Linked DNA regions of Homo sapiens. The protein of the gene in region 1 purifies or fractionates together with the protein of each later gene. This does not show direct contact. Each region holds a gene or a part of one and is shown on either strand. Other genes may lie near its edges.

Region 1 (4,412 bases):
GGCAGGGGCATTCTATGAACAAGACTTCTGGGAGCAGAGCTGGCCTGGGTACCAAGGGAGAGTCCCAGCTGCTCAGCACTGGGTCAGGGGTGGTGATGGCGATGTGGCCCCAGACCAGGGCTCTCACTCGTGATCTCAATCCTGCCCCTGTGGACGGGGGTCCACAGGAACTCATGCCCAGGAGTAAAAAGGTACAACCCATGTCTTATAGTCCTAGACCAGAAAAGCTGCCTCCTAAAATTACCAGAGACTGTATTTATAGCCCATCTTACTTGAAGAGGCTTTTGCTCACCATTTCTGGAAAAGGTTTCAGTCTGCAATCAAAGAAGTAAGTTCTATCACAAAAGATATGGTATATAGAATAAGGGAGGGGATTTTTTTCTCTTCCGCTCTGTGCTAGGACACTGCACTTTAAGAAAAGAGTGATTACCTCTAGGATTGTTGAAGAAACAGGATCTGGTTAGGCTAGAAAAGAAAAGACTTACAGGGCTCTTATCTTAAACAGGGAACAGACATTCTGAGTAGACTTGCAGCCTGGAATCAAGACCAAAGAGTAGAAGCTCCAGGGAGAGAGATAGCGATTCAATGTAAGAAAGAATTTTGGACAGTCTCGACTATAGAAATAGAACCAGACCATCACTGGAAGTGGTCCAGCCAAAGTAGGAGATGCTGCCCTGGTCAGGGATGCTGTAGACAGCCAGCACCTGAAGGTGATGGTCAAAGGCCTCCTTGAGGAGATTTGCACATGGGTGCCACATCCCAGAACGTTCCTATCCATGCACTTTTGTCCCAAAACGTATCACTGGAGAAAGGTTTTCTCCCCCTGAAGTCACTCATATTATAGACCTGAAAAGTGATGGGACAACACTATAGTGCCTGGAACATTAACTCGATTGGATAAAATGGGCAATCACCTCTCCCCTAAACAGGCACATTTAAATTATGTAAGGCCTGTAGCAGGCTCCCTTTCTGACACTTGGGGAAAAAAAAATCTACCTGGTTTCTGATTTCATTAACTTTTTCTAAAAGTTTCCCTGGGTGCCTCTATACCTTGCAGTGAACCCCAAGTGCTCACCTGAGTTCCATCACATCTGAGACCAGCACTCAGGACAACCCTATGAAAGACTCAGGGTTCCTAGACTTGTAATGGGCCCAAAGACTTCACTTTTCTCTCACCTTGCTCACCAAAAGGCATGAGGTCAAAACAGGAACTTCACAGAAGATAATATTTCCCATTAATAGCAGTTTACTTTTAAAGTTCTGGGGACCTGATCATTTCGTAGAGTCAATATTGACTCCATGTCTACTCTGGGCTGGTGATGTATTAGGCACTTTGTAGCCAACGAATCTTTGATCAATCCTGCAAGATGACACCATCCCTTTAAAAAAAATTATGGGAAATGAAATTCAGAGAGGTTAAGTGACTTGAGCAAAGTCACCCAGAAACTAGGAGGCAGAGCATAGGTTTGAGTCCAGATCTGACCTAGTCCATTGCTACTATGAGAAACTCTAATCATAAATGGAAAGACTGCTAATAAACAGTGTTTTGAAGAAAAAAGATTGCATTAGAATGTTATTTGAAGCTTATTAGAACAAGAGTATGGATATACAATTTCCAATATATTAGAGGTCAGATTAAGCCCTCCTCCAATACATGCTAAAATATCTCCAGGCAGTCTTTCACTTCAATATGAAAAAAGATTCCAACAAAATTTAAATTGAGCTCTCTAAGTTTAGTATAGGTTAATTTCATATTCTGCTTCAGGTCTAAAACTTAAAGCTTTAAGATATCAACATTAAAGACAAGAAAGAGTGTTATGCCTGCAAAGAAGCTCCAGTGTCATCAAGTCTGGTGACTATGAAGTTGTGTTAGTGTCATGGATCTCTCTGGATTCAAATGAAAGCTATAGACCTCTCTCTACATCTCCCAAAAAGCATGCTCAAAAAGCATTTTGCCCACACCCTCATGGTCCTCAGATTGAGACCTAAACCAATCTCGTTTTATAGATGAGAATATTGCAGCTCAGAGAGGTTAAGTGATTTGCCCAAGATCACACAGCCAATTCAGAGCAGAGCCAGGACTTGAACCCTGGCCTCCCACTTCTCAGTCTCATGCTCTTCCCCTCCCCACTCCCCGCCACCGGCAACCACCACCCCTCTGCACTGCCTGTTTCAAATTCGGATTCAAAAATTTCCCTTTTTAAAACATAGCACATTTCTTCCTGAAATACCATTTCCTTCATGTTTTTAAATAGCTCTGAGAATCCATTGTATTTCTGTCCCGGTAGTGACAGGATGGGGTCACCTGGGCTATGTTTCATAAGCGATAATGAACGAACTGGCCGTTTGCTAGAGAAAGATCACGAGTGAAGCCTTTTCCCGACCTTTCTGTAGAGTTAACATCATCTAAGAACTGAATCCAATTGTGATTGAAATAAGAATCCTGAAAATCTCACTTAGATTTGGCTGGGAGCAGGAGACACTGTCAACTAGAGAAAAGAAGAAAAAGGGAAAAGAATATAAGGTTTGCATGGTGTCACTGTGATAGAGAGAAAAGTTCTCAATTTCATCTTTCACCTTCCTTCTCCATTGTCCAAAGGCTCATAACGGAAGAAGAGATCGCAAGCTACAGGTAGGCTTTACACACGAGAGGAAGGAAGGAAGGAAGGGGTGCTCTCGGCAATCCAGATGCAGACCCAGGACTGCATTTAGGGCAGATGGAAGAGTTCACACAGTGCTAGCTACAGAGCTTATTAGAAAAGACTATGGATACATAACTTCCAACATATTAGAGGTCAGATTAGGTCCTCTTCAAATGCAGGCTAAAATATCTCCACACAGTCTTCCGTGCCATCTTTGAGGCTCTACTTACTGTCATCTTCATTCAGATCCCTGTCCATGTTCCAGACGTCCTGCCAAAGAGATGTCTGCCCTTCGAGTGTGCTTGGACCGATGTGCTCTGATGGACCACCCTCAGGCCCCTCCCAGAACAGCAGGCCCATTGTTACCCAGTTGGAATACAACAAAGGGAAACATCTATATCGTTCATCATAGCAGCTGCTCTGCACCCAATCCACCGGGTTCTGGGAGCTCCTCTTCCACAAGAGCCTTCTACTGACCAAGCTCTTATGGATGCTTCTAGTTACTCATGTCCTCACTGCACCCCTTTGAGAGGGGCACTGGTATCATGCCCATTTTTCTGAGCAGGATGATAGATTCAAACCCTCATCAGTCTGACTCTCTAGTCAGAGTGCCTGACAACTGAGCTACATCGCCCAGCTGTAGGAGGCAGACTCCTAAGTATTGTAGGGCGCATGCAGAAAAAGGTCATAACCACAAGAAGGTTACCTCCCCAAGGGGGATATTATATACAGATACTCAGCCTGGGCAGGGCCTCTGAGATCTTGAGCATCACCAGCCTCATCTCCCTGGGGAAGAAACAAAGCTGGGATTGTGAGGCCACACTGCAAAGCCACACGGCACCTCATGGGCAGAGCTGGCTCCCAACCCAGCCATGTGGGCCACTACTGTCGCCACACCAGCCTCGCCCACTGTGAAACATCTTTGGATTTGTAAAAGGTCTTTTCCTAAACCTTTTCCATTGGAGTTTGACACCCCTTCAACCTCAGCCCTTGGAAGATCATCCTCCTCTGCATGAGTCTAAACACAGAACTTGTGAGCTGGTCCCCGAGGCTCTATGGGTCCCACCCCCTCCACTGCATCCTTGGCAATCACTCCTCTGCAGCTGAACCTGGGGTTCTCTGGCCAGGGTGATGAAACTGCCCTACGCCTTGACTTCCCCATCCCAGCAATGCACGTGGGATGTGCCATGATATTCCTCAATGACAACCTGGGATTGCCTTCACCAGGGGAAGCATCAGGACTATTTTGTCAGTGTCCTAAATGTCGGCCTGTCTGGGATGGCCACACTGCACAGAGATGGCTCCCAGCTGCTCCATAAAGAGCGTGTCTTTATTCTCTCTACTGCCTTCACCCTCGTCACTGACTGCCCATCGCCGACAGCATGCAAGTGCAACCTTCAGCAGTATTCACAATTTCACAAATGCTTCTTAGGTGACTCAGTCCTCACAAATCGATTTTTATGGCTGGTAGGAGCACTGGATTTCTGATACTTGAGAGTCATATAAGTTTCATTACTGTGTATACACAAGGAAGACCATGATCCTGAGGAACAAATGTGGTCTTTTGATGCCTTTATACATGAAGCAATGATTTTAAGCCCTTATAGAATTGTCCCCATGGTAAATGGGGTTATCATGAATTTGTATGCCTTTCTCTGCGTGTATATTTTACCCTAAACATCTGTGTGAGCATCCATTGCTGTATCTGTTTAGGTGTGTGTTTGCATGTGTGTATATATTTGAGCCAAAACATGATAAATGATAGATTAA
Region 2 (3,500 bases), on another chromosome or scaffold:
ATACCCAACTTGGCACAAAAGGAAATTCTGATGTGTCTTGCTTGTTTTATTTTTAAAAGTGAGTATTAGGAGATTTCTTGTCTTGAGTTGGGGATGCCACCAGAAAATTAGTGGCCCAAATTTGTGTGCCCTGTTTGGCCTCTGAAAATTATTACTGGACTAAGTAGGTATTGTAGCTAGAGTATTTTGCCCTGCTAAAATGATGCTTAGCCTGAAAAATCGGAGCACCACTTCTCAAATTTATTTTTCCAACTCAGTAATTAAAAAAACATTTACTTCCTGCCTACTGGGTTGTGGAATATTGTCAGGATCTCTGGGTTCCAGGTGAGGGATGCAGAATGCAGGGAAAGACAGGTCCCCTGCCCTCCAGAAGTCGGTGGCGCCTTTTCAGAGTAACACACACTGGAGCAGACCCCTGGAAAAGGACAGTCCACTGGTGGACCATGACCTTGGTCAAAAGAGGGACCAGGTCTGGCTTGCTCACTGTTTTGCACCCAAGAAGTATTTGCTCAGGGAATGAGGGGGTTAGATTCCTCCTCATTCATTACCATTCTTACTAGGCAGAGGCCTCATTGGGATTAAAAGACAGGAATGTAACTCTCTGCCCACTGATAGGGAATGTGTGTTTGCTCTTTGTATCCCAGGGGTGTGATACCTCTTTCCTGTGGTCACTCTGCACTTAAGATATTTTGGGGCCTGGCACGGTGGCTCACGCCTGTAGTTCCAACACTTTGGGAGGCCAAGGTGACCGATCATCTGAGGTCCTGAGTTCGAGACCATCCTGCCCAACATGGTGAAACCCCATCTCTACTAAAAATACAAAAATTAGCCAGGCCTGGTGGTACGTGCCTGTAATCCCAGCTACTTGGGAGGCTGAGGCAAGAGAATCGCTTGAACCCGGGAGGCAGAGGTTGCAGTGAGCAGAGATCACACCATCGCACTCCAGCCTGGGCGACACAGCGAGACTCCATCTCACACACACACACACACAAAGTTATTTTGATTTGTGCATTTCCGAAAAGATATAAAAACCATCTTGTGCTTCCTTGCCCAATATCCCAACCCCCACCTTCAAAACGTTGGTGGATTTTTCAAAAAGCTTTTTATGGAAGTTTAACATATACAGCAAAGTGAATATAAGTATGCAGCTTGATGAATTTTCTCAAACTGGATACTAGCAAAAAGTATGATTCTTTGAGTATTTTGTCAACTCTGGTTGATCTGTGTGAGTGGAGGGAAGCAGTGATGGTGAATATTTATTTTTTAAAGCACACATAAATATAATCTCCTCAGAGGCTGGGCACATTGGCTCACGCCTGTAATCCCAGCACTTTGGGAGACCGAGGCAGGCATATCACTTGAGGTCAGGAGTTTGAGACCAGCTTGGCCAACATGGTGAAACCCCGTCTCTACTAAAAATACAAAATTAGGGCCAGGTGCGGTGGCTCACACCTGTAATCCCGGCACTTTGGGACGCCAAGGTGGGCAGATCACGAGGTCAAGAGATCGAGACCATCCTGGCCAACATGGTGAAACCCTGTCTCTACTAAAAATACAACAGATTAGCCAGGCGTGGTGGCAGGTGCCTGTAATCCCAGCTACTTAGGAGACTGAGGCAGGAGAATCGCTTGAACCCAGGAGGCGGAGGTTGCAGTGAGCCGAGATCATGCCTTTGCACCAGCCTGGGCAAAAAGAGTGAAACTGTGTCAAAAAAAAAAAATACAAAATTAGCTGGGCGTGGTGGCGCATGCCTATAATTCCAGCTACTTGGGAGGCTGAGGCAGGAGGATCACTGGAACTCAGGAGGCGGAGGTTCCATTGAGCTGAGATTGTGCCACTGCACTTCATCCTGGGCGACAGAGCGAAACTCTATCTGAAAAAAAAAAAAAAAAAAAAAATCGGCCGGACATAGTGACTCATGCCTGTAATCCCAGCACTTTGGGAGGCTGAGGCATGTGGATCACCTGAGGTCAGGAGCTTGAGACCAGCCTGGCCAACATGGTGAAACCCCGTCTCTACAAAAATACAAAAATTACCCTGGCGTGGTCGCAGGCGCCTGTAATGCCAGCTACTCAGGAGGCTGAGGCAGGAGAATCGCTTGAACCCAGGAGGTGGAAGTTGCAGTGAGCTGAGATCGTGCCACTGCACTCCAGCCTGGCCAACAGAGTGAGATGCTGTCTCAAAAAAATAAAATAAAAAAATAAGGCAGGGCGCGGTGGCTCACGCCTGTAATCCCAGCACTGTGGGAGGCCAAGGTGGGCGGATCACGAGGTCAGGAGATCGAGACCATCCTGGCTAACACGGTGAAACCCCGTCTCTACTAAAAATACAAAAAAAATTAGCCGGGCATGGTGGCGGGCACCTGTCGTCCCAGTTGCTGGGGAGGCTGAGGCAGGAGAATGGCGTGAACTTGGGAGATGGAGCTTGCAGTGAGCCGAGATCGCGCTACTGCACTCCAGCCTGGCCAACAGAGCGAGACTCCCTCTCAAAAAAAAAAGAAAAAAAAAAAAAACTTCTCAGCTTTGGGAAATACTTTATGAGAGAGAGAAATTTATTATCTTTGTTATTTTTGTTAAGTAGATGCTATAAGTTTGTATCTCCTGAGCCCACATTAGTCAATGTAGAGGGACAGCTGAAAATTAAACTTTTGTTGTGGTTAATTAACACAGGAAATTGACTGCATTATAAATCTGTGAAGTGAGACTCACCAGTAGTGGATAGGTTCCATACACTGAACATTTCCAGTAATGATTTTGTTAAAACAAGCCAGAGGGAGATTGCACTGGAAGATTTAAGGAATGACAGCCGGGTATTCTGAGCGCTGGCTGTATTTTAGAGTCACTTGCAGAGATTTAAAAAAACAAAAAACAAATCTGTGCTGCCGTCACCTGCAGATATTCTCAGTCACTGGGTTTTAGTTGGAGTGACTCAAAAATCTGTGTTTTAAAAAGGTCTTCCCTGGTGATCTGGATGCTCACCCCAGGTTGAAAGTCTCTGTCTTCAACACGGTAAATATGTGCCTGCTCAGACAGTCTGGTGATACTTTCACACTGGCAAAATGGAAAACAAACCCTATCGGAGAAAATCACATAGAACTCTCCTCTGAGGCTAATGTAAACAGTTCTACATCTTGTTTATAACATTTTCCCATATTTGCTTTGTGCCATCAGCATCAAGATCTGGTATGGAGTGAATGCTAATGAAAGATCTGTTCTCCCCATCTCTCACTCCCTCTCCCACTCCCCTCCAACCCCAATTCCACAATTTCTCTCAGGATTACAAGGCAGAGGAAGACCCAGCAAAATTTAAATCTATCAAAACAGGCCGAGGACCCTTGGGCCCCAATTGGAAGGTACCATTCACACCTTCACTGCCAGGGGGCTGGGCAGCATGTGGGTGGGCCGCTCCCTGTGGAGGAGGGGCATGGCTGGGGTGAGCTGGGGACGGCCTGAGGTCTGCCCGTTGTTACTTGCGTACCCATGGGTATGTTTCTAATGCAG

What was found. Proteins that work in one complex are often made in the same cells at the same time.
Region 2: the proteins of SSUH2 (region 1) and PITPNA purify together in Homo sapiens (affinity purification with mass spectrometry; one large-scale study listed by BioGRID and IntAct). This does not show direct contact.

What each region holds. Positions count from the first base shown.
Region 1 is NC_000003.12:8,641,859-8,646,270, forward strand, and holds the start of SSUH2 (protein SSUH2 homolog), read right to left. Parts: upstream 2,941-4,412; 5' UTR 2,901-2,940; coding exon 2,873-2,900; intron 1-2,872. UniProt on the Homo sapiens protein: Plays a role in odontogenesis.
Region 2 is NC_000017.11:1,535,293-1,538,792, reverse strand, and holds part of PITPNA (phosphatidylinositol transfer protein alpha isoform), read left to right. Parts: intron 1-3,274; coding exon 3,275-3,352; intron 3,353-3,500. UniProt on the Homo sapiens protein: Catalyzes the transfer of phosphatidylinositol (PI) and phosphatidylcholine (PC) between membranes. Shows a preference for PI and PC containing shorter saturated or monosaturated acyl chains at the sn-1 and sn-2 positions.